Linked DNA regions of Homo sapiens. The protein of the gene in region 3 interacts with the protein of the main gene of each other region in a pairwise test. Each region holds a gene or a part of one and is shown on either strand. Other genes may lie near its edges. The genes, in order: CCDC167, ORMDL3, SYT2 and CMTM3.

Region 1 (7,675 bases), on a different chromosome or scaffold from region 3:
TTTGGTTTTCATGTCACTGGCTGTCTAATTCAGTTTCATGTGGATTCACTGTCTACAATTTGATTTACGTTAACTAAAAACTGGATACCAACTAAATAGCAAGCACATTCTTTTCCCCTTCCTTCCTTCCTTTTCTTTCTTTTTGCATGGTAACATGAGGTTGGGTGCAAGGAGTGGTATGTGAGTTTTCCCCAGTGAAATATATGGACAAAAAAGTTCTAGCATCTTGGCTTAGCTGAAATGTATAAAACTCACTAAGACATAAAACTGTTCCAAGCAGGCCATAAAGGCGCTGCTGCCTTTGCCTCAGAACTTGGGCTATAATCTGCTGTCCTGGAACAAAATGCAAACATAAATCAGCTTTCACAGTATTTTTAGCCACCTAAAAAATTCTTCATTTCCTGCCTGAAATGCTTCTGACAGTGAGCAATGCCACTCTCCCTCATTCTTGCTCTGAAAAGCTTCCCTTTGGGCAGCGATGGGGACCCAACACTGGGCCCCACAGCTGAGGCAAACCCAGAAGGAGGCATGGGATAGAGGAAATGGTCTCCCAGGGTCTCTAGGACAAATAAGTCAGGGATGTGGCTAGCGTATAAATTGCTTTCATGCAAAGTTGGAAAGGGCGCCCCTCCTTGGCACAGGAAGCCCTGTGGGTTCCCACTTGGGATGCCCTCTCCTGCATCTTTGCCTGACGCAATCTCATCTGTCCTCCTGGACCCAGAGCCTCCACAAAGCCATCCCCAAATACCCACCCCATTCTCTTGTTTCTGCACTCCTAATGCATCAACAGTGAGTACCAGACAGCTGGCATTTAATTATATGATGTCTGGCATGCACTATTTCATGTTGTCAGTCTGTCTCTCTAACTAGATTAAAGAGATCTTGAGGTAATCGTTAGTTCTTACTTTATATGTCTCCCTTACAGCTAACAAGGAAGCTTTATGTCTTCCTCGTTATGTCTTACAAATAACAAGGTCATGAAAAACAGGAACCTAGGGTGACTGTCTCGTTCTCCCCACTGTACCCATTGAGCAGACAAAATTAAGAGCCAAAGAGGAGGCTTGACCTGCCCAAGGTCATGCAGTGAGAACTTGGGCTAGCCAGGAACGACTCCAGTTCTCCTGTCTGTCAATGCAGCATTCGACTTTCCTGAAACACTTAGTTCTAAAACCCCCAATAGGAGGTTCAGAACCACAGCTCCCTGGGGTAATAAAGACAGACAGACAGACAGCTGGCCCACAGTAATCCATCTGCTCATGGGCAGAATTTCCAACATGGAGGCAAGTCAAGCTGCTCTAAGGCTCAGCAAACAGCCTCCATGGGAATCCAGGCTGGGTCTCTGTATGTGCCAGGGGGATGAAAGGACCTCAGTGGGGTACCTGGGGTGCTTGCATCCTCCCTGACACCACGCAGGTCACTATTGTCTGCGATGTCTGGGGCAAAGGAAACCCGTAATTGATGGTCTCAGCAGGAAGGACACATAGACAGGTGGAGAGGGCATCTCCTGTTTACAGAGAAACGCTTGTGTTTGCAAGGGGCTGCCTTTTTGCAGTGAACTATGCACCCATGATAGCAGGAAACCACCCAAGTATTTGCCCCAAATTTATAACAACAGATACAATAGTGTCAAAGCTGATAGAAACTGAAAACAAAATAATAACAAAAAATACCCATGGCAACAATTGCTAAACAAAACCCTATAACGACAAGCTGGCAGCAGCCTCATCAGTCCTGCTGAGCCTCTCCTAGGCACTCACAAGCCACAGCACCCGCCACTTAGTACTTCTCACAAATGCCCTATGAGTTTGGTATGATGTGCTTGTTTTATAGATGTGGAAGCTGAAGCTTACGGGGCTGAAGTATCTTGCCTCACATCACAGGCTGCTAAGAAGCAGAGCTGGGATTGGCATCCAGGTTGATCTCCCTCTAAAAGCCTCCCCTTTCACTACAACCCACATAGACTCTCATTCCAACCCCACTTCAAGCATTTCTTCCCATTATCAGACCTGTGGGACAAGGTTTGGTTGGGAAAACACGAGGCTCTTCAGGAAGACAGACAACAGATTGCCCATCATTTCATGGACAAGGGACCGACATGAGGCGCACCCAGATCTCTGTGGCTTTTTCTTGGTGCCAAACAAATGCAGAAGGAGTCACTTCTCAAAGAACACAGTGTTTTTCTTCCTCTTCTCACCTCTCCTGGGCCGGTGCCTGTGATAATTGGGAAGCACAGAGTCTGGTTTTTCCGGGATTGGAACCAATGCTGTGAAGAGTGTTCTGACAATAAATGTTGATTGACAGTTGATGGACAATGTTCTTGAATCAGTTTTTCCTGTGCTGGGTGTTAAGCTGAGAACTGCACTAAACAACTGCTCAACAACCTGCTTCCTGTTCAGATAGAATTTACTACACTCTCTCTCTGTGGGCCTCAGTCAGGCAGCCAGGCGAGATGGTATCTCAGACGCCTTCCAGCTCCATCACTCAATGTCTCTATCAAGAAGAGAACACAGATCTGAAAACATTTTTCCCCCTAACACTGAGTTGGGGTTATTATTCACATACAAAAACACAGGCACCAACAGAGATAACTGGTCAGGAAATAAGGAGCTTTGATTCTGGTCTCATACTCTTTGACCTAGTAATTCTACTTCTGTGAATTTATCTTAAAGAAAGAATCCAGAGGACAGAGCTGTGTGCACGAAAAGGTTTGCTTTCGCAATATTTGGAGTTACTGTCAATAAAATGATGTCCAATGCAAGAATGCGAGAGACTCCCTTGGTGGCACATGAGGCCACCGCAAGTGATAATTTCAAAGACACAGAAAAACATACTTGGCAGTGTTTTTCAAATTGCAGTTCAACCTCCATTAAGGGGTCATGAAATAAACCTAAGAGGTGTCCTGCCACCAACTTGTTTTTGTTTATTTTTTTGAGATGGAGTTTCGCTCTTTCACCCATGCTGGAGTGCAGTGGCACGATCTCGGCTCACTGCAACCTCCGCCTTCCAGTTTCAAGTGTTTCTCCTGCTTCAGCCTCCCGAGTAGTTGGGTTTACAGGCGCCCACCACCACGCCCAGCTAATTTTTGTATTTTTAGTAGAGACGGGCTTTCACCACGTTGGCCAGGCTGGTCTCAAATTACTGACCTCGTGATCTGCCCAGCCTCCCAAAGTGCTGGGATTGAGAGGTAAAGCCAGCTGGACTTCCTGGGTTGAGTGGGGACTTGGAGAACTTTTCTGTCTAGCTAGACAATTGTAAACGCACCAATCAGCGTTCTGTGTCTAGCTAAAGGATTGTAAATGCGCCAATCAGCACTCTGTAAAAACCCACCAATCAGCGCTCTGTGTCTAGCTAAAGGATTATAATGCACCAATAAGCACTCTGTGTCTACCTAGGGATTGTAAATGCACCAGTCAGTGCTCTGTAAAAACGCACCAATCAGCGCTCTGTGTCTAGCTAAAGGATTGTAAATGCACCAATCTGCACTCTGTAAAAATGCACCAATCAGCACTCTGTGTCTAGCTAAAGGACTGTAAATGCACCAATCAGCACTCTGTAAAATGGACCAGTCAGTGCTCTGTAACAGGGGACAAATAAGGGAATAAAAGCTGGCCATCCCCCAGTCAACAGTGGCAACCCACTCAGGTCCCCTTCCATGATGTGGGAGCTTTGTTCTTTTGCTCTTCACAATAAATCCTGCTGCTGCTCACTCTCTGGGTCCGTGCTACCTTTAAGAGCTGTAACACTCACCGTGAAGTCAGTGAGACCAAGAACCCACCTGAAGGAACCAACTCCAGACACAGGATTACAGGCCTGAGCCACCGTGCCCGACTTTGTTTTTTTTTAATTAAATAGGCAAGAATACAAAATAACAGAGTGCATTACAGGAGGTAAAGGTACTTACTGTGAAACTTTGGTTTTGGTTTCATGGGTAACTGGGCCATGGTATAAAATACATTTTTTTATCGTAGGGTCACAGTCAAAACATTTCAAAGGCCGTGGGTCTATGGTGTACAGTATAGTACGATTACAACAATGTAAAATACTGTGTGTGAGGCCAAGCCTGGGAGGAATAAACAGAAGCAAAGAGGAACTGATAAAGTTGGTAGAATAAAGGATGCTGCTTCTCAGTTATATGTTTTCTGTGATGTTTGTAGGTTGTTCTTACAATAAAACAAACCAAAAAAAAAAAAAAAAAGAAGTCAAGACACAAAGGAGAAATAACAATAGAGGGCCATTATCAGATTCCATTGGCCGAGAAGCTCAAGGCTCCAGCACCGGCCTTGAAGGATGGACAGACTTTGAATGGGGGGCGTGGCCTAAACAGGGACGGGGTTGTTGCTGAAACACAAAACACACTGAAAGAGAACATGGGGTTAAAAAAGGCTCTCAGTGATGCAAAGCGGCTTAAAACTGGGGAAGAAAGGGGCAGGTCTACTCCCGGGCTGTACATTCTGCCTCCCTGTACCGACTTTTCCACCCTCCACCCATCTAGGCTGAGGTCTCAAGCTAGAGGTTGCCCCTCATAAACATGTCCGCACCAAGCCGGCCGCGCCCCTCAACAAGATGGCGACGGCAGCAGCCCCACCTCCCGCTGACTCGGTGGCCAATGAGGGAGAAGCACGAAGACTTGAGCATGCGCACATAGCGACTTGGTGGGCGCGTCCAGTGATGACTGGGGGATCCCGGCAAGTAACATGACTAAAAAGAAGCGGGAGAATCTGGGCGTCGCTCTAGAGGTGAGGGGAAAAGTGGGGGTTGGGCCACCTCGTTAGTTGCCTTCTCCTGGCCGCGGGATAAGGGATAGGCTGGGCTATAGATAGGAGGAGGAGCCAAGCGTAGGATGAGAGGGCGACGCGGTTTGGGGAGAGGGACGGGAGGGGTGAGAAGGCCCACGGGGTTCCCGGAGGACAGGGAGCCCGAGGAGGTGCCGGATGGGCGAACCAGACTCTCTGGAGAGGGCATCTCCAGAGAGGAAGAGACATGGAAGTGAAGGGGAGCCCCAAAGACGGCCTGGCATAGAAGTGAGGGAACTCAAAGCGGGGGACACAGAACAAAAGGGATGGGTACAGAGGTGAGGGAGACCCCAGAGAAATAGGGACCTGTAGAATCTAAGGAGAACTCCCAAAGGGCTAGGACTCAAAGATGAGGGAGCCCATTCTGGTGTATATTATTAATGGTTTAAATATCCTCTAAAAGGGGAAATTTTTCCTCCGGAGTATGGAAGCTTGTACCTTCAAAATTACTTTGGGAATATGTAAAGAGAATTCTGGAATTGGTGATGTCACTGAATGGCTTAAAAATAATTTGCTGCATATAGAAGGGAAAGAAAACATACATACTGAGCAACCGCTATGTGCTACTTTCATTGCATTGTTAATCCTCACTGCAAGCCTGTGAGGTTTGTACAGATGAGGAAATTGAGGTTCCAGGTGGAACCCAGGCTGAGATGGTGGAAGTGGTGGAGCCTGGGAATCAAGCACAGGTGGTCTTCCTGGAAATTCATCTTGCTTCCCCTGTTTTCCTTCCCTTAGGGCATCCTCCCGGAGGTTGCAGGAGAGGTACAGGGTCATAGTCTTCTTCAGGCTTACTAGTGAGTTCAGTGATTCTCAAACTTTAGCATGCATAGAGTCACAGGGCTTGTTAAAAATGGAGAGTTGAACTCTTCCCACACCCCGAGTAATTCAGTAGGACTTTGATGTGCATTCTTAACAAGGAATCTGCTTTTTTTTTTTTAAGACAGAGTCTCGCTCTGTTGTCCAGGCTGAAGTGCAGTGGCGTGATCTCGGCTCACTGTAAACTCTGCCTTCTGGGTTCAAGCGATTCTCGTGCCTCAGCCTCCCGAGTAGCTGGGATTACAGGCACGTGCCACCATGCCTGGCTAATTTTTGTATTTTTGTAGAGACGGGGTTTCACCGTGTTGGCCAGGCTGGTCTTGAACTCTTGACCTCAAGTGATCTGCCCGCCCGCCTTAGCCTCCCAAAGTGCTGGGATTACAGGCATGAGCCACCACAGCCGGCCAGAATCTGCATTTTTTTTTTTTTTACAAGCCACACACACCCCATGGTGATGTGGGTAGTTTTAGTGGCATCCCTTGAGAAATATTGGCCCACTTGGTAGGAAAAAGGTTGATGGAAATGTGAAGAGGATGGTTTATGAGTGGTGACTGAGATGGTACTTTGTGGCGGGAAGAACATAGACTTTGTAACCTGCATTAGGGTACAATAAGCTGCAGTAACAGAGAAACTCCAAAACTCAGTGGCTTCAAGAACAAGAAAGTGAGTTTTTTTCTAACAGGCTAGAGCAAGGGGCAGGAGATGTCTGCAAATGGTCAGATAGTAACTATTTTAGAAGAGACATGGTCTCTTCTAGAGAGCCAAATGGTCTGGGTTGCAACTACAGTTGATCCTCATTATTCACAGATTCCACATTTGCGAATTTCCCTAATGGCTAAAATGTATTTGTAACCCCAAAATCAGTACTCACAGTGCTTTTGTGGCAAATGCAAAGCAGTGGGAAAAAAATTGAGTCGCTCGCAGTCCATGTTCTCAGCTAAAGTTGAACAGGTGATGATGCCCTGCCTTGTTTCAGCTGTCCTACTGTAAACAAGGGTCCTTATTGTGTTCTATTTAGTGCCCTGTTTTTGTTTTGTTTTGTTTTTTTCATTCTCATGTTTTTTATTGGTATTTCGCTGTGTTTTGCTTTTGAGACAGAATCTCACTCTCGCCCAGGCTGGAGTGTAGTGGTGCACTCTTGGCTCTGCAACCTCCACCTCCCATTCAAGTGTTCACCCCCACCTTCCCCCGACACAGCCTCTCTAGTAGCCAGGATTAGACCACCACCACATCCGGCTAATTTTTGTATTTTTGGTAAAGACGGGGGTCTTGCCATGTCGGCCAGGCTGGTCTCGAACTCCTGACCTTAGGTGATCTGCCCACCTCGGCCTCCCAAAGTGCTGGGATTAGAGGTGTGAGCCACTGCCTGATTTTGCTGTTTAAAGTGCCCCCGATCCCCGACCCCCGACCCCAAGCATAGGGCTGAAGTGCTGTCTGGCATTCCTAAATCCAAGAAGGCTGTGATGTGTTGTAGAAGAAAACAGGTTTTTTAGATAAACTGTTCAGGCATGATATAACTCATGATGTAACAGCACGTATAGTGCTGTTGGTTGTGAGTCCAGTGTTAATGAATCAACAATATATATTGAATAAGGTCACTTTAAACAGAATCACACATGAAACAAGGTTGCAAAAATGTTGTGTCCATAGGCTTGCAGGAACCTCACCTGGTTTGGTATTTGCTAATTCAATATTAGAGGCAACTTTATAGGACATAGCTACCAGGAACAACAAGAACCAACTGTATTCAGGCTAAGGTAGGAGTATGTAAATGAAGGAATATGTAAATAAGTGGGTGTGTCAGTGTTCCACTAAAGCTTTATCTGCAAGAACAGTCCTTAGACCATTTGGCCACAGGGCTTAGTTGCCAACTCCTGGTCTAGAGTACCAGGTCTATGGTGGTTCTGCCAGATTCCCTTCCTCTGTGGCTTCACCATCTCTTGAGATCTTGTCACCTTATCAGTGGAACCGGGGCATACCCCACTGATGTGTCCACCGGCAGAGAAAGAGGAGAATGGAGGAAGCACACCCACTGTCCTGGGCCCAAACTGTCCACTTTCCAT
Region 2 (4,089 bases), on a different chromosome or scaffold from region 3:
CCCTGCCACTCAGGCTTATGGTGGGAGGAGGAAGTATGAAAAGTCCCCTCCACTGAAAGGCCAGAAGGAAACGCAGCGCTCCCAAGGGAGAGGTGACTGGGGAAAGGCCTTGGGGAGAGAAGTGAGAAACTGGAGAAGGGCTGGGGATTCACTGGGAAGGACTGAGCACCACTTGGGACCCTGGCTCCACGTGTAAACCATTGCTGGAGTGTCCCCCTCCTTGGCCATGGCACAGGTCACCCCAGCCTCTGGGGCCAAGGCGCAAGACCTGTCGGAGAACAGCCAGGCAAAAGCACAGAGAATTTTGCTCTCTGACTACCGCTGCCGCCGCCAGTTCCCTCACAGCCCCCTTGGGGGATTTCCCTGCTGAAGCCAGCAGAAAGCCCAGCAGTCCCAGCGCCCCTCCTGCCACCGTCAGAGCTGCACTGATGCCCCACCAGCACCTCAGCGGGAGCCGCTGCCCACACCCCTGCCCCCTCCCCTCAGCCTTCCAGGAAGCGAAGGCCAGACACAGGGAAACAGAAACATGTTGCCCTTTTATTTGCGTTTCTCAGAATACTGTACAAAGGGAGTAAAAATCCTATTCACACTTTGCTTAGAAAGATTTTAAGGTGAAAGTTCCCTATGATACACGGGGTGGGAGATGCAGGGTCAGGAGGGAGAAAACAGGCCCAGTGACCTCTCCCGTTCCCTTGGACCCCTGGAAGAGGACACAGGGACCCACACCTTTTCAAAATTAACACTGCCCCTAGTCCAACTGGGGAGGGGAGAAGGCTCCAGCCCAGGCTCAGGCTCCCGGCCTCACTTTCTTCTCTGCAGGCTGAGACAGTGCCTACAGGCCACGTCTTGCCCCTTCCTCTGTGCTGCTTGAGCAGGGATCCTACAGGACTCTCACCACAGACCCCACATGGGGTGGCCTCACAACGCCACATGTGGCTGCCACATGAGAGGCCCTGCCCAGTGCCAGTCTGTATGAGGAAGTTAAGGGGTGAGGGCCTGCAGAGGACCACAGCACCCATCGTTTCTGTCACAGCTTCCCCATACCCCCGCAGGAGTCAGGGCCAAGTTGGACCTGTGCTTACAATGACTCACGGGCCTTTTCCCCACCTGTCTACCCAACAGCCAACCCAGGAGTTAAACCCACAGCAGCCTCCCTCCCCTATTACTATCACATTCTGTGGGTAAATTAACCCTCCAAGCCTGCTTCCCTCCCTGCCCACATCCCAAAGGAGATTGGGTCTAGCTTCTGTCCCTACCCCTCCCTCCCTTACACCAGTCCTCTGCTGCTATGTGGCCCCATTCTTCTAAGTCTCGACTCACTAGCTCTCCTACAGCTCCCCAACCTCCACCAGGCCAGGATGGCAGCAGCCCTGGCCCCCTCACCTCTGGAACCAAGCCATCTACACTCTACCCCATCTTTCCCCAACCTGACCCTCCCCACTCCCAACCAGGACCCACGGTGGGTTGCAGAGAAGCTGCCAAAAGCCTGGGACTTGGATTAGACAGCTCCCTACCCAGAAAGGCAAAGACCCATCCCACACTTGCTTCCATACACAAAAGCACACACTGCGTGGCATCGAAAAAACCTAGGAATCACAGTGAAACAATCCAGAAGCCGTACCGCCCTCTGCTCCCTATGCAGGGGTTAAAGTGCTTTGGCTGCCTGAGGGCAAACAAGTGAGCAGGGGTTTTTCCCCTGGCCTCCTGTCGCAACTGCGTGGTCCATGTTCAGCCCAGGAGCCCAGCCCATTCCATGACCAACTCCATGGAGTCTCTATTCAAAAAGCAAAAGGAAAAGATCAAAAAATTCAGAAAAGGTCAGAGCCCAGGGGGCCTACCCCAACCCCACTACAAGCTACTCCAAGTTGGCTACTGGGGGAAGCGAGGGGGGAAATTAGGCCAGAGGCTCAACCCCCATCTCTGGCAGTGTCCAGAGGCTTCTTCTTTCTGTCTTCAGTGTTGCAGCACATGCCTTTTACCCTACCCCTCCCCTGCCACCCTGGGCAGGGGAAGGGGCTGCACTCTCAGTACTTATTGATTCCAAAAATCCGGACTCCGTGGAGCTGGGGCAGCTTGGGGATAAGCACGCTCATCAGGGACACGGTGTTGAGCACAAAATGGATCTGGTCGTACTTAGTGTAGAAGCTGGTGAGGAAGTACCTGGGAGGGGAAGGGTGGGGAGAGATATAAAAGACTGTTGGGAGGACCCCTTCCTCCCTCACTTCCTGGGAGGGGAAAGGCAGAATCCCAACAGCTAAGGAGTTACAGAAGAGGTTCCCAGACCAGCGTAAGAAGCAAGAGCTCTCAGGCTAAAGGGGCCCCTCCTGGCCCAGTACCGCCCCCACCTCCCAGCTTCACCCCAAGCCTGTAGGCCTATCTCACTAGCAGGAAGGAAGCTCCAATGGAGGAAAGATGGGGCCAGGGAGGCCCAAAGCCTGAGTCCAGTGTAAGACCCAGGAATATTCCAACTTCCTCTGTTCATCCCTACACCAGGAGCCACGGCAGGGTTAATAAGCATGGCTGGGCCCTGGGGTCCTCCAGGCCTTGCCCTGCCTGCTGGTGTCTTCCTGTAGCCCAGGCACTCACAGCACGATGGGTGTGATGGTCAAGAACTTCCGAGAGGCCGTGAACTGGACCCCATAATCCATCTGCTCCCAGTGGGTTAGCAGCCTCGCCTTGCCCTGGTCCGGGGTCTCAAAGGGTGTCCCCTTCACCGTGTGCAGGAAGATATACATGCCCTGGAGGAAGAAGTCTTTGTTAGAGGATACAAAAGGGAAAGGCCCCCCTGCCCAGCTCCTCCACCCAGTCACAGACACAAGTAACTCCCAGTGATCTGGAGCCTCCCTCTGCTGGGCAGGGGGATATGGGCTGGAGGTCAGGATGGAGCAGCTGGGAGTATGGCAGGAGAAGAACAAGGGGACTCCCTGGGGGACGGGCTAGGCCTGGCATGAGAATGCACGGTGGAAGTTGGCCACAAGATAGGCACCGAGATGCTGCCCCCCTCCAGGCCACTCATAGCCCCCTGTGCCTGTTGGGAGGAGGCAAGCGATGGGACTAAGCCCTGCTTACCCGACAAAGAGTGCAAGGTAGCAAGTGGTGAGGGAGCAGAGAAGGGCAAAAGTGGAAGACGGTTCGAGAAGCTAACTTGAGAAAGGGGCATTTCTGTATCAGCCTAGGCACCAGGACTCTCGGGTCCTGGGAACTCTCTGGAGCCCTTTGTTCAGCTCTCAGGAGCACATCTTCCAGGCCAACAGCCACCCCACCCTAGAGATGTGGAAAAATCTGCAGATTTGATTCCTGTCATGGTACACAGGGCAGGAACCCAGAAGGGGGAGCAAGGCAGAGAGGTAAGGGCTAGGCCTGGGCTCTGGAGGCAGATGTCGTCAGTACATCACCCTGACACCTGGGCCAGGCCCGACAGGCTCCTCCTATCCCTCAGCCCTGCCAAAGGGCAGCCCACAGGGCAGGGGCAGGGGCAGGGGCAGGCAGCAGACAGGCTCTCACCATGTTGTGAATGAGGTTGGTGAGGGTCCAGACGACAGGGACACTCACAAACGGGATGCTCAGCAGCACGATGTGGAGGAGACCGATGGCCAGCACGTAGGAGAGCCAGATGCCACGGCTGTTCATCACCCGCGTGTTGGGGTTCACCTCGCTGTGCGCTGTGCCCACATTCATCCTGCTGCCCCTCTCTGCTGTTCTGCAAACAAGCAGCACAGGTCAGACAGGTCACACTGCTTTCCCTGCCCCCTCTCACCCTCGGATCCCGCTGGGAGGCAGGCCCTTGTTTCCCTGAGAACTCCAGGCAGTTCCACTCTTTTGATTCTGAAGCATGGAAAGTGGAGAAAGTCCATGTGGACTTAGCTCTACTCATTTCCTGCTGCTGGGCTGGGATAAACAACAGGCTGCCCCATGCATCATCCCATTGGGACAGGGCCCTGGCAGGGCATCGGAGGACAGGTCATCAAGAGGCACGCAGCCCCAGGGCAGAGAAGTCAAGGCCCATCCCCCAGCCTCACCCCCTATGGCACTCCCATGAGGACCCTCTGCCGACAAAGCCCCAGGGAGAGAATTCTCACTCAGCACAAC
Region 3 (7,030 bases):
ACCCTTATGTCAAGGTCTTCCTCCTTCCTGACAAGAAGAAGAAATATGAGACCAAAGTCCATCGGAAGACACTGAACCCTGCCTTCAATGAAACCTTCACCTTCAAGGTGCTGAGGGCTGGAAGGGTGACTCCAGCTCCCTGCCTGATCCCAATTCTCTGCTGAGTTCTACAGACCTTTCCTTGGTCCTTAGCCATGGCTCAGCCTGGAACAATGGCAGCCTTGACTGCAGGGCTACCCCGGCCTCTATGGAGGATCGGGATCCCTCCCACCCCACCCTCACACTCTGCTCCCCAAAAGCCTTGGTCTTTGTCTGTCTCGGCACACTAACCTGGACCCTGTGGGCTGGAATGCAGGCCCCTGCCCATAGCACCCCTGGAGGTGCGTGAGTCGCTCTGGCCCCCTCTGATTCTGCTTGTGCCCTGCAGGTGCCATACCAGGAGCTTGGGGGCAAAACTCTGGTGATGGCCATCTATGACTTTGACCGCTTCTCCAAACATGACATCATTGGAGAGGTAAAGGTGCCTATGAACACAGTGGACCTCGGCCAGCCCATTGAGGAGTGGAGAGACCTGCAAGGCGGGGAAAAGGAGGAGGTAAGAGCAGAGATGAGGCCAGGTTGGGCAGAAAGACGAATGTACAGGTGGGCTTCCACCTCTTGGCATGATGGAAACAGGGTGGGCTTTGGAGGCAGACGACCTGTGTTAGGATCCCAGCTCCACACTGCCTGGCTGTGTGACCCTGGGCAAGTTGCTTACACTCTCTGGACTCGGGTTCCCTCCTTTAGTCTTTTTTTACAGATGAGGATTCATTACCTGCATAAAGCGCCTAGCGCAGCGACTGGTATTTGGTAGGTACTCAAATAAATAAAAACACCATTATTATTGTTACTCCTAAGCTTCTGCTATTACCTAAGGCCAGTGATTCACGCCTCTGTGCCTCAGTTCACCCACAAGAAAAGCTCATGTTTGTTCTAAAGGATACTCAGCAAAGGGACTTGTCCTCCCAGAACTGCTACAGCATCCATTCACTCACTAAATATTTGCTGAGCAATTGCTGTGTACCTAAAACTCCATTTTAGCCATTCTTCCTTCTGGGCATCAATCATTTGTCTTGGCCAGGGCCCTGCTACCTGGCACACTCTAGGCAGTGATGGAGGGCTGAGTAGAGAAGCTTAAGACATCCTTTTTTCCCTTTTGTCCCCTGTGCCTGGGAGGAAGGCCAGCACACCTGAACCAGGACCTGTGTGATGTCGTCAGTCTTGCCCTGGGTGGCTTTGACTTTGAGCAGCTTTGACTCTGCAGTGTGGTGTTGGCCTTAGGAATTAGGAGCCCTGGGTCCTCAGCCTGCCTACAGTGCTAAATTGTTGTGTGACTTTGAGCAAACCATGGCCTCTGGGAACCTCAGTTTCTCATTGGTTACAAAGAATTCTTGTCTTGTTTACATCAAAGAGTTGCAGTGATAGTAACAAAAGGGATGCAAATTGCTCCGAAAACCACAAATCATACTACAAGTGGAATGGTCCACAAGGAGAGATCTTGGTGGGTGGGACTGTTAAGGGAAAGAAGGCTTCTGAGACATTCAGTCCCCCAGGGCCCTTGGTGGTGGACACGTGGCTAACCCACCCGCTTCTCGCACACCTTCCCACCTTACCAGGGCCTGGGGTGGGAGCCCAAACATACTCCCAACCTCCCAGATCCCAGATCCACCCAGGGATCCCTCCCTCAGTCCTGCCACCGCAGCTGTCCTCTACCCCCCTCATCTGTCAGCATCCTCAGCCCACGGCTCCTGAGGTCCCAACCTGTCACTTTCAGGGACTTTGTTGCACTGCATCAGGGGGACCCAAGGTCAGATGCTGGAAGACCTTCTCGGCCATCACATATATGGGGACTGGTGATGAGGGAGGCAGGGACACATCACTGCCTTGCTAATTTTGGCAAGAAAGAGGTCAGCCATGAGAGAGGCACTAGGATGGGTGAGATGACCCAAGTCCTGCTCTTCCCCTGGACAGCCGGAGAAGCTGGGCGACATCTGCACCTCCCTGCGCTATGTGCCCACGGCCGGGAAGCTCACTGTCTGCATCCTGGAGGCTAAGAACCTCAAGAAGATGGACGTGGGCGGCCTTTCAGGTACGTGGAGAGCTTCTGGCTGCCATTGGGTGGCACCAGCGAGCCAGTCAGCACCAAGTCCCAGAGTTTGCACACTCCAGTGAAGAGGAACACTTTGCTGCCCTGGGACTGAGATGTCTCCTCGAGGAGCGGGGGAGCCTTAGCTTCCCAGGCCCTCCTTTTCTCCAAGGGCCCCTTGTCCCCATCAGAGCTGCCTTCCCAGCGCTCTCTGGCCATGCACTGTGGGCTACAGAGAAAAGGATCAGAGAAATTTCATCCCCAGATAAGTTTGTGACTTAGGATTTTACTTCTCCCAGGGAAATGAGCAGGGCTTAGCCCAAAGCATGACACCACAATCGAGACATGTTTCCAGAAGAGGCTGTAGGCTCTGCTGGCTCTGCCCTGGAAAGGGGAGGGTGAGGCAAGGGAGTGGAAGATGCTCTGAATATCACATTTACCTGGCAGTGAATGGGGCTGGCCCATGGCACAGGGCTCTAGTGGATGAAGCCTGCTGCCTCAGCTGCCTTCCCAGAGAATCAGCCCTGGGCATGGGCTCCAACCAGCGCGTTTCAGTGCCAGCCTGGCTCTGTCACTGACCCGCTGTGTGACCTCGGGCAGGTCATTTCCGTTCTTTGGCCTCAGTTTCTTGTCTGCAAGATTAGGGGGATCGGATTGGGATTATGACCCAGCAGATGTGTGTCCTGACTTCAGCACTCCCCACCCACTCCCCAGTACAGGATCACAGATGAATCCCCAGACTCTTTCTCACAAGGCCTTACTTAGACTCAGAAATGCCCTCCACCCAATGCTTCAGGAAGCCACAACCAACTGGTCACAGTTGGTCCTGGAGGTGAAGCCTTTTGCCACCTTTGAACTGGATGGCATGACTTGGGGCTTTCTGAGGGCCTGGTCTCAGCGGAGTGAAGACCCCCTCTTGACCGATGCTCTGGGCAGGCCTTGGTACATTCGGCAGGAAGGCTGGGGGCTAAGGGGAACCTCTCTGGGGTTGGGATTCTCCCTCCGCAGACCCGTACGTGAAGATCCACCTGATGCAGAATGGCAAGAGGCTCAAGAAGAAGAAGACAACCGTGAAGAAGAAGACCCTGAACCCATACTTCAACGAGTCCTTCAGCTTTGAGATCCCCTTCGAGCAGATTCAGGTGCTGGAGCCCTGGGTTCCTAGGCATGGAGCAGGGTTTGGGGAGGCAAACATGTATGGGGAGGTTGAAGAGAGGGAACTCACCTAGAGACCATGGAACAGCCTTTCTTGGTAGGGGAAGGCTCGAGGTCTAATGGTGCCTGGGTGGGGCCTCCTTCCCAAGTGCTTCAGGGATCCCCCTTTTCTGAGGAGATAAACATGAACTAATTCAAAAAATTCTGCAAATCATTCGTTTAGGACTTGAAGGACCATGGTCATGCACACAGATGTATGGGGGTATAGCAAAGGTGCCAGAGGGGTTGGGAGCTGGCTGAGAGGGTGGGAGTGGCCGCTGCCACCTCCATCCTCTCCAGCCACATCCTGTCTTGGCCATCCCTGCCCCACTTCCACTGCTCTCTAGGTCTTTCCCATCTACTCCTCTGATCTGCTTCCTCTCCTCTCTCCCTCCACCCTTCCAGCCTTCTCTATTTTTCCTTCCTTCTCACCAGCAAGTTCTGTAAATGTTGGAGATGAGGTCTGGTTTTCACCATTTCCAGGTATGAGTGGGATCTGGACGTGGTAGGACAAGAGACCCACCCACCCACCCATTTGGGCGGGAAGTCAGGCGCAGCTGGGGGCTTGCAGAGTGGTCGGTTATCATGGAGTCTTGGTCTCTCCTTCTTTGTAGTGAGCTGATCCCACCCCCTCTCCTCCCCGCAGGAGGGCTGGGGGCAAGGGTACAAGAGAATCTTCAGAGTTGGTTCTGTCATCTATGGAGATGTGTATGATGTTATTGATGGAATACTTCAAGGGAACACTGGGCAGCTCAGTGATAATGTTAATCCAAGAGAAGTCCTCATTACAGAGAATTTTAGATCTAGAGCATCCTGACCCAGGCATCTCAAATTCAACATGCCTAAAACCAATGTAATGTTCTTCTTCCTACCTCTTCCCAGCCAAGCCTGTTTCATCTGAATTCTGTTTTCAATGAATGACCCCACAGTCCATCATTTACCCAGTGGCCCAAGTCAGAAACCTGGGCGTCACCTTAGACTGACTATTTCCTTTTTCCTTTCTCATTTATCCAACATACTTTACTGAGCATTTCCTAAGTGGTAGGCTAGGGGATGAGGAAATAAGTGTGTAATCCACACACTCCTTGCTCTCAAGGACCTCACAGTGGGAGGGCACCAGTAAACAGTCTAGTAAAGCACAGTGAGACGACAGCTTCAATGTCCATGAAGCGGAGGACTGTAGTGAGGCTTCCCAGAGAGAGCTTGGTCCTGAAGGACAAATCTGAGTTGGCTGGAGTCACAGGGGAAAAAGGCATCGAGCATTCAGCAAATCCAGCTGATCATCAAGTCCTCTTGATTCTCTTCCTAAATACCTCTCCAACCTGGTTTTGACTTCCCATCCCCACTGTCCCTGCCTTGGTACAGGTATTCGGGATCCATCCTCCCAGACCCTCCAGCATCCTCCAATGGGTCTCTTCCCTGCCATTAGGCCCACTCCTCCTCCAGTAAATCTTCCAACTCAATGCCAGGGCTCTCTCTCTCAAATGTCCACGACACTCCTTTTCTTAAAGTCGTCAGGAGTCCCCTACTGCTTGCCTGAAAGACAAAATGCAGACTCCTTGGCTGACCCCAACCTACTCTACCAGCCTCATTTCCTGCCTCACTGCTTCTCACCCTATACCTCAATGACTGAACATCTAATGTTTCTCAGATGCCAAATGCACTCTCAGGTCTCTATGCCTCTACCCAAGCAAATCTGTTTTCCTGGAATCCTCTTCCTTCTTTTCTCCTCCTAGAGAAATTCTCAGACTTCATGTCCCAGTCACCTCTTCTGTGAAGCCTTTTCTGATTGGCCCCAGGACTGTCACCTCCTCTAAGTTTCCACAGTACCTTGTGCCCATCTCTCTAGCATAACCTTTATCAATTCATGTTGTAAGTTTTCAGTTACATGTCTGCTGATCTCATTGAGGAAGTGAAATTCATCTTTTCACTTTTCCTTCCCTCTTCTCCCCCTCCAAGTGCTTAACAGGGTCTAGAGCACAGTACATCCTCAATAAATGCCCAGTGGTAGAAACAAAGGCTGCCAAAGGCGTGGCCTCTGCCTCCATGTCAATTCAGTCTTCACTGGAGCAGAGATGAAACCAAGGAGCCCCAGGAGGCCTTACCTTCCCAATCATTGGGAGTAGAGGTTGATGGAGGATAAATTTGGTCATGGGATCCCACGTCTCTGTCTGCCAACTCCCTCCCTCGTTTTCCTTGCAGAAAGTCCAGGTAGTGGTCACCGTGCTGGACTATGACAAGCTGGGCAAGAACGAAGCCATAGGCAAGATCTTCGTGGGCAGCAATGCCACGGGCACAGAGCTGCGGCACTGGTCCGACATGCTGGCCAACCCCCGGAGGCCCATCGCCCAGTGGCACTCGCTCAAGCCTGAGGAGGAGGTGGATGCACTCCTGGGCAAGAACAAGTAGACAGCAGCGGCTGGGACCCCACACCTTTCACGGACACTGACAAGATCCAGAGCTATCAATACCTCAGTTATGCAACCTTAGAGGTTTTCTTTTTTCTTTCATTTGTTGGGTGGTTGTGTCCTTGTTTTTCCTTGTTTTTCTCTTTTTAAAGACCAACTTCCCTTTGATGGCTGTGTGAGGAGAGTCCCCTAAGAGGTGAAAGAGAAGCCTGGCTCTGTTCACGGTCCCAGGAGCTGTCCTTGCTGCATGCCCTGTCACAGTTCCCTCGACTCTTTCAAAGCTTCACATCTGCCTCACCCCAAGCGAGGCTCTCTACTGGCACAAACTTGCAGCAGTTCCTGTTTTTTGAGCCTTCTGGACCAACAAAATGGCAGCACATCCTGCTTCCTGACAGGGAAGGCATCACAGTGGCCAATGATCGTGTGTGTGTGTGTGTGTGTGTGTGTGTATGTGTGTGTGTGTGTGTGTGTGTGTGTGTGTGTGTGTGTCTTTGAGCATTTCTCTTCATTCCTGGAATGTGTGTGTGTGTGTGTCTCTTTGAGCATCTCTCTTCATTCCTGGAATGAGCCATGGACAGTAAAGTTGTGTGGGAAAAGAAGGCTCTTTGGGGACCCTGACATGAAGAAGTCCACTAAGTGGGAGATCTTCTCTCATCTATGGCAAAGTCTCAGGATCCTGTTCAGATATCGGGGCTTTCATACTCCTGTTGGTGGCTATTTGGGAGGCAGCAAGATGTGAAGACTGGATGTGTTCAGAACTAGGACCAAACGATGCCATCAAATACTTCCTCCTGCCAGTCATGGTTTCCCCAGAAGTGTAGTTCCTGGGACATTCATGGATATGAGCTATTCACTAGTTGGGTCAGACTAACAGGGACTCTCAGTCCCAAAATCTCACTCTTATTGACAATAAATATCAAACTATGAAGAAACAGAAGTCCCATTACCAGAAAGACCAAAATTAAACTCCTGGATCTTCACCCCATCCAGTGGGAAACACAGATGCTTTCTCCCTTTCCAGAATATAAGCAGCCAAGTTCATTTGCATTTATTCCCCATTGTGCTTTTGCTTCTGTTTCTCTTTTAAGTGGAGCAACACTGTCTGAAGACACGTTATCTGTGCAGAGCCAGAGAACTTTAAAAGGAAAGTTTAAATGTTCTTAGTTCTCCTGAGGTCCAGGTAAGAAGGGGGTGGTAAGAAGAGGATGGGGGACAGATGGCTGAGATCCCTTGGGAGGAGATATAGGGGAGCACTGGAATTCCCCCGACTCCCACTCCTTGCTCCCTTGGCCCTCTGCCCTCC
Region 4 (7,411 bases), on a different chromosome or scaffold from region 3:
ATTTTTTGTGTTTTTAGTAGAGACAGGGTTTCACCATGTTGGCCAGGCTGGTCTCCAACTCCTGACCTCAGGTGATTAGCCCACCTCAGCCTCCCAAAGTGCTGGGATTACAGGCATGAGCCACTGCGCCCAGCCCAGGGCCACGTTTTTAATAACACCAATGGGAACCAGATTTCTCTCTGTTAGAACCCTCACCTGGCCTCCTCCTAGGGAATTGTCCGTAAAATCCAAACTCCAGGTTCTGGTCCTCCCAGTCTAGCCCTGCCCCTTTTCTGACCAGCTCCCCCCATCTTCCCCCACCCTTCCCCCCAAACACCTTGGCTCAGTCCTTTCTTTGACACTCCCTTCCTGGCTGTCCTCCCAACCAGCCAGACATCTGTTATCTATTACCAGGAACACCTTATTCAGGATTCTCTGGATATGTTTAGTGTTTATTCCACCACCATCACCAGCAGCAGCAGAAAAAGCTGGGGCCTTGCTGTACCCTAGGCACTGCTGTTGGATGAATAAATGAATGTCAAGAAAGGCTTCTCTGAGGAAGCAATACTGCACTATAGTCACTGAAGAATAAGGAGGAGTTAATTAGAGAAGAAGGTGGAGAAGCATTCTGGGTAGAGGGGTCAGCATGGACAATGGCTCTGTGGCAGGAGGGACCATAGTTTGTTCCAGGAACTGTAAGAGGTCCATGGGAGAGGCAGGGGAGGGAAGCACAGCAAAGAGTTATATTTTCCTTCTATACTAAGACCCTGTGCAGGTTGGGAAGCTCCCATGGTTTGTGTGTGTGTGTGTGTGTGTGTCTGTGTGTGTGTGTGTGTGTGTGTGTGTTTATCTTTGTGGGGAGGAGATGGAAGTGTTACAGGATCTTTGGGGTGTTAATTTTCTGGTTGGAAACCTCTGTGGCCAGTGGCACCTTTGCCAGAGTTCTTGTCTTGCATCCAGGAAGAATGAGGTACACAGACAAGTGGAGGGAGAACAAGTCAACAAGGAGGTTTACTGAGTGTTAGAAAGCTCAGAGGAGACTGACAGTGGGTAGCTCTTCTCTGTAGGGAGGTCATCCCGTTGAGTGTTCAGCTCTCAGCAGAGAGGAGGCCCTGGAGAGTGTGGCTCCTCTCTGTACCTGGTCCTCCCAACCTCTGCTCAGCTCTGGCTGAGACTGGGGCTTTTATGGGCCTCAGAGTGGAGGAAGTGTGAGCCCAGTTGATCTATGGGCAGCCATGGGTGGGTCAGAAAAGGAGGTACAAGTTCCCACTCTGGTCGGTCGGACTGGCAGCCTGGCCCCCAGCCTTCAGGCCCTCCCTGGCCCAAAGGTGGGGCCTCAATGGGACTTGCCCCCTTCCACCCAGGAATCTGTCCGCCTCCTGCTGCCATTCATGAAGCCCAGGCTTGCCCCAACTTTGCTCCCAGATCAGAGCACGTGTCCACAGCAGGAAGAAGCCAGGCAGCAGGAGAAGGCACTTCCGAGCCTGGGAGGGCAGGTGGGGGCCTTCCTGGGCCCCTAAGAGTACAGGGATGCCTGAGCCTGCAGCTGTGGTTTGGGCAGCTGTAGCTGTGGGAAAGGGGGTCCCAGGGCTCCTGTCTGCCCCATGGAGGAGGCCCCATTCTGCAGCTGCAGTTTGGGTAGCTGCAGCTGCACCTGGGAGAGCAGGACTCCTGCCTGCTCCATGGAGTGTGCAGCCCAGGCCATGCCTCCCTGCTGCAGCTGGGTGATGATAGCAGCAGGTTGTCTGGAGCCACGGCTGCCATCAAAAGTGATCAATGACTGGTGATTGTCATGAGTGGTACAAGGTCAAGAGATAATCAGGTCTGGCCAGGTGCGGTGGCTCACGCCTGTAATCCCAAACCTTTGGGAGGCCGAGGCGGGAAGATTGTTGGAGGCCAGGAGTTCAAGACCAGCCTGGCCAACATGGCAAAACCCTGTCTCTACTAAAAATACAAAAATTAGCTGGGTGTGGTGGCACAGGCCTGTAATCCCAGCTACTTGGGAGACTGAGGCATGAGAATCCCTTGAATCTGGGAGGTGGAGGTTGCAGTGAGCCAAGATCATGCCACTGCACTCCAGCCTGGGTGACAGAGCAAGCCTCTGTCTCAAGAAAGAAAAAAGAGATAACTAGGTCCACACGTGTTTGTGTCTTTCCACAGTGTCAGATTTTTATTCACCCTATACCCAAGGGTAAAAAAAAACAAAAGCCACAAGCTATCCCAAGGAGCCAATTTGCTTCTTCTTCTTCTTCTTCTTTTTTCTTTCATACAGAGTCTCACTCTGCCGCCCAGGCTGGAGTGCAGCTGGAGTGCAGTGGTGCGATCTCAGCTCACTGCAACCTCTGCCTTCTGGGTTCAAGTGATTCTCATGCCTCACCCTCCCAAGTAGCTGGGGTTACAGGCCTGTGCCACCACGCCCAGCTAATTTTTGTATTTTTAGTGGAGATGGGTTTTCGCCATGTTGGCCAAGCTGGTCTCGAACTCCTGACCTCAGGTGATCTGCCTGCCTCAGCCTCCCAAAATGCTGGAATTATAGGCATGGGCCACTGCACCCAGACCCAAGGAGCCAATTTTCCTTAGTACTTCCCGTTCACTCAGTAGTGAGCACATGGGCTCAAGCCACTCCACAAGTCAGTCAATATTGCAAACCATATATAATAGTATACTTAATCCACATGTAAATGTTATAAACATTCCACAACAAACAAAGTAGCATTTAACATCAAGAGAAAAAGAGATAGGAGAAAGGGTTAAGGAACCAGTTCCAGGGTAAGGAAGAAGACAAAAGGAATCCTGGTCTGGGCTTGAGGGTCTTGCAGAGTCTTTGAGGGGCAGAGCCTTGGGAGGCAGATGCAGAGTTCTTATGAACGGCAGTGGGATGGTTGTCAGTTAAGGCTGCTGGGCTGCTGTTTTGTAGTCACAGAGTGCTCTGGTGAGAAATGGTAGAGGAACAGTGTGCTTCTTTGTGTCCTTATGTGGTTGGACGCAGTCTTTATTTATTTTTTTTTTTATTTTTTGAGACAGAGTCTTGCTCTGTCGCCCAGGCTGGGGTGCAGTGGTGTGATTTTGGCTCACTGCAACCTATGCCTCCCGGGTTCAAGCGATTCTTGTGCCTCAGCCTCCTGAGTAGCTGAGATTATAGGCACGGTGCCACCACGCCCAGCTAATTTTTGTATTTTTAGTAGACACGGGGTTTCACTATATTGGCCAGGCTGGTCTCGAACTCCTGACCTCGTGATCCACCCACCTCAGCCTCCCAACGTGCTGGGATTACAGGCATGAGCCACAGCGCCTGACCTTCTATTTTTTATTAAACAAAACATCTTGCCCTTGTTGGCAAAGCACCCTATGAAATATAAAATGAAGTCTTTTTCTAAGATGGAGTTAGTTATGTCAAGGGTGCGCAGTACTGTGCCATAAGCTCTCCCCCGGCTGCCCAGAGAGAAAACCTAAGGGCCTCTTAAAGACACCATCACAGCAGTTCAGCGGGGAGCAGGCAGGAATGGTTTCGGATCTAGTGGTGGTGAGAAGTAGACAGAGATCAGAGAAAGTTATAGGAGGTGAAAGTGGGAGGACCTTGGTTACAGACTGCCGGTGAAGAGGGACAAGGACAACCCGCAGGTCTCCGCTAGTCAGGTGGAAGGAAAGGAGGGGGCAGTGCCCTTCGCAGAGGCACAGGAAGCTGGGTCTTGATCACGCTGAACTCCAGACGCTCTCTAGATGTGCACGCATGTGCGTGTGGAGTGTGTGTGTGTGTGTGTGTGAGAGAGAGAGATGTGTTGGGGTGGGGGGACTGCAGGTCAGGAAGTCCTGCAGATGTGCGTGCCTGTGTGTGTTTGCGCGCGCGCGCGCGTGTGTGTGTGTCTGTGTGTGTGCCTGGAGCTGCGCTTGCAGGTCTGAGAGTCCTCTGAGAATGGGTTGGGGGAGGCGGGTGCAGGACCGAGGCCTGGAACAGCCAACAAAGAGGCCCTGGAGGAGGGTGGGGCTGGCCGGGGACAGGAGGGGTGGCCAAGAAAGTCGCAAGAAAACTCCGGCCCCCAAGAAAAAGAGAGGGCATGGGTTGCGGAGCCGACATCACGGCCGGGGTCTTTGCTGTTTAGACGCCTGGGTTCCCGGATCCCAGACACGCGCACGGGCAGGAAGTTAGACCGGAGACAGCGAGTATAGACAGCCCTTCTGGATAGGGGCAGACGGGTGGGAGCTCCGAAGGGGTGCCGGGGCGGTGATCGGGAGGTCTCCAGCGGCCCGAACCAGGGTGAAGAAGAAGGTGGAGTCTGCGGAGGCCCCAGGCCGGGGAGGGGGCGGGTCGGGCCCAGCATCCCCCGCAGCCGGGGTCCGAGGGGGAGGGGCGGGCTGGAGGAGCGGGTGGGGGCGGGGCGGGGCGTGGCGGCGGGGGATGCGCCCCTGCGCGAGCCAGTGTCGCCTGCCCTCCTTCCGCACAGCCCGGGTTTCCGCTTCCCTCCGGGCGCGAGAAGAGGGGAGCCAGGCCGAGCCCCGGCCCTACCGCCGCCGCCGCCATGTGGCCCCCAGACCCCGACCCCGACCCGGACCCCGAGCCTGCCGGCGGCTCCCGTCCCGGCCCCGCGGTCCCCGGGCTCCGCGCCCTGCTGCCGGCGCGGGCTTTCCTCTGCTCTCTCAAAGGCCGCCTCCTGCTGGCCGAGTCGGTGAGTGCGGCGGGACCCTCGGCCGCCCCGCTAGGACTGCGCGGCTCCTTTCGGAGGAGGACGTCGGGGCGCGGGTGGGGTCCGGGGGCGGCCGCCGTGCTCCGATACCCCCTCTCCGCGCCGCCTCGGCCGACTTCTCTCGGGCGCCTGGCGAAGTTGGGTCGAGGTCCCCAAACTTTGGACGGCGGGGCGGGGCCCGAGCCCAGGCCATCCGCGGCGCTGTCCCCGCGAGTCCAGAGCTGGGGGCCGTGGGAAGTGGGTGGGGCCCGGGGATGTGGGTCCTGCTGTGTGAGCCAGGCGCCCCCGCCCTCTCTGGGCCCCGGGGACTCGGGCAACTCGGACCTCCGGGACTCCCGGGCCGCAGCGGGGTCCGCTTTCCTGCGAGCGGGTAGTGCGGGCCGGGGCCTCGACCTGCGGGGCCGAGCCGGCGGGGGGCCGTGCGGAGCGGGAGGGATCCCCCACCCCCGGGACTGGGTGAGGCGGCCCCGCGGTGACTTCATCGCCCTCCTCCCCTCCGCGGCCGGGCTCCTTCCTACTCCGCCCTCGCCCCCACCCCGGCCGGTGGGGCTTCTTTGTCCTCTGGACACCGGAGGCGCCCGCACTGTCCGCTGTGGGGTAGGGGTGGCGCTGGGCCGTTGGGGATGGGGAGGGAGAGGCCGGGCCGGAGACCGGGGGAGGCGGGAGGAGAGAGCGGCGCACGGCGGCGGCCACTTGTTGCTTAGATCCCAGGAACTTGGCGCTTCCTGCCCTTGTCCCCACTTTACAGATGAGAGCGCTCAGGCGCCTGATTTGACAGGTGGCTCAACTGAGGGGCCCAGTGAGAGCGGCCAGGAGGGTGGGGGCAGGAGGAAGGGGGATTCTGCTCCGGGACCTCTCCCTGGTCACTCAGGGCAGAGGGCAGAAGGTGGTCCTGCAGCCTCTCCCACGGTCAGCCCAGAGGCCACCTGCCCAACGCCCAAGTGAGACACCAATGCCACACTCCGAGCCCACACTCCCAGCCCCACCCTGGAGACCACTGGGAGCCACTTGAGGGGAGAAGCCTCGAATCCACCGTCCCCAGAGTGGCTTGAACCCCCCCATCCCCACCCAAGACCACCTCATAAGAGGGAGGCATATGTCCAGCAGGAGCATAGAGGCCACCCTGGGCCCAGCAGATGTCAGGAATCCAGGTCAGGGAGGATAAGGAAGGGTGAACGGTCAGCACTCAGGGTTCACAGGAGCCGCTGAGGGCACTCCTGCCTCCCTAGTCCCCTCACTCCCACCCCCAGGCCAAGCAAGTGCAGAGGCTGAGATGGACAGAAACAGAGAGAGGAAGTGGCCCCAGAAATCGCGGGATGAAAAAACAGGAATTGAGAGGGGAATCCCCAGAATTAGGCTTTGGGGTGCAGGCATAGGAGACAGGAAGGGGAGGGCCAGAGCTGGGTCAGTCCCATGGAAGGCCTTCCTGGGAGGCCCCAGCAGCCTCCCAGCCCGTCTCTATGCCTTAGTCTATCTTTCCAAAGGGGGCTCAGCTGCACCCAAGGCCATGTGCAGAGCAAATGGGGGTGCTCTGGGGACCCCCTGGGATCCCTGCAGTTCATTTGTCTGAAGCAGCCACAGTGCTTCCTGTGGGGCATCTGGGTGTCCCCATGGGGACTCCTGCACCCACTAGAAACTACTCAGCCATAGACATGTTCAAACGCAGCCACAGTGACAGAAACCAGGGACAGATGGCCTCCCCAACACCCACAGGGCCAAGTTGCTTAAGAACTCTACCTGGGCCGGGCGTGGTGGCTCATGCCTGTAATCCCAACACTTTAGGAGGCCGAGGTGGGTGGATCACCTGAGGTCAGGAATTCGAGACCAGCCTGGCCAGCATGGTGAAACCCTGTCTCTACTAAAAATAAAAAAATTAGCTGGGTTTGGTGGCGGGCGCCTGTAATCCCAGCTACTCGGGAAGGCTGAGGCAGGAGAATCACTTGAACCCCGGAGGTGGAGGTTGCAGTGAACTGAGATCGTGCCACTGCACTCCAGCCTGGGAGACGGAGCAAGACTCCATCTCTGGGGCGGAGGTAAGATAACTCTATCTGGGGGGTCAGCCAGCCCTGGGTTCAAATTCTAGTAGCCTCTGATTAGCCATGTGACAGAGTCTTCTCATCTGTCAAGTGGGGCTGTGCTCATGGGTGGATGTGAGGGTCAGAGGAGATGCCCGTGAGCCTCAGGGTACCAGGCACTGTGGAGCCCCAGGCTGGCCAACAGGTCACCTTGGCCTGCTCTGCAGCGTACCTGGGCTGCAGGACTGCCCAGGGCTCAACATCCTCCTGCATCAGCTCTTCCCACCTACAGAGTTGTGGGCAAGACCACAGTGAACATTTTGATTCTTGTAGTTCAAGTACAGCTGGCCCCACCTTTCACAGCTGGCCCTGTATGAATAAGGCAGCAGGGCCTGAGGTGTCAGTGCCAACGCACCCTCTGTTAGATGTTCCTTTCTTATCATTATGAAAATTTGCAAATACATTAAAACTCCAAAAGATTTTTTTGCTTTATCTATCTGTCCATCAAGGCATTTTATCTTTTAACACAAAATAAATTGCAGACATCAGGACATTTCAACTCTGAACACTTCAGGACGCATATCATTAAGGTTCAAGGTTTTTTCTTTTCAAGGTGAAATCTACATTCAGTGACGAGCACACGTCTTTGGTGTTGGGTGTTACTTTTTGGAAACTGGTTCCTGCCTCGCTTTGATTTCCCTCCGCAGGGCACTGAGTGGAGTGCATGTGCTTGGA

The links.
Region 1: the proteins of SYT2 (region 3) and CCDC167 interact in binary tests that used the Homo sapiens proteins (3 or more experiments, as listed by UniProt).
Region 2: the proteins of SYT2 (region 3) and ORMDL3 interact in binary tests that used the Homo sapiens proteins (3 or more experiments, as listed by UniProt).
Region 4: the proteins of SYT2 (region 3) and CMTM3 interact in binary tests that used the Homo sapiens proteins (3 or more experiments, as listed by UniProt).

The regions. Positions count from the first base shown.
Region 1 is NC_000006.12:37,496,883-37,504,557, reverse strand, and holds the start of CCDC167 (coiled-coil domain-containing protein 167), read left to right. Parts: upstream 1-4,664; 5' UTR 4,665-4,694; coding exon 4,695-4,736; intron 4,737-7,675.
Region 2 is NC_000017.11:39,920,526-39,924,614, forward strand, and holds the end of ORMDL3 (ORM1-like protein 3), read right to left. Parts: intron 3,701-4,089; 5' UTR 3,679-3,700; coding exon 3,505-3,678; intron 2,739-3,504; coding exon 2,587-2,738; intron 2,161-2,586; coding exon 2,025-2,160; 3' UTR 518-2,024; downstream 1-517. UniProt on the Homo sapiens protein: Plays an essential role in the homeostatic regulation of sphingolipid de novo biosynthesis by modulating the activity of the serine palmitoyltransferase (SPT) in response to ceramide levels.
Region 3 is NC_000001.11:202,595,455-202,602,484, reverse strand, and holds part of SYT2 (synaptotagmin-2), read left to right. Parts: coding exon 1-107; intron 108-427; coding exon 428-595; intron 596-2,010; coding exon 2,011-2,128; intron 2,129-3,133; coding exon 3,134-3,267; intron 3,268-5,521; coding exon 5,522-5,728; 3' UTR 5,729-7,030. UniProt on the Homo sapiens protein: Exhibits calcium-dependent phospholipid and inositol polyphosphate binding properties. May have a regulatory role in the membrane interactions during trafficking of synaptic vesicles at the active zone of the synapse.
Region 4 is NC_000016.10:66,600,310-66,607,720, forward strand, and holds the start of CMTM3 (CKLF-like MARVEL transmembrane domain-containing protein 3), read left to right. Parts: upstream 1-4,394; 5' UTR 4,395-4,496; coding exon 4,497-4,643; intron 4,644-4,699; exon of another isoform or gene 4,700-4,915; coding exon of another isoform or gene 4,916-5,011; intron 5,012-7,411.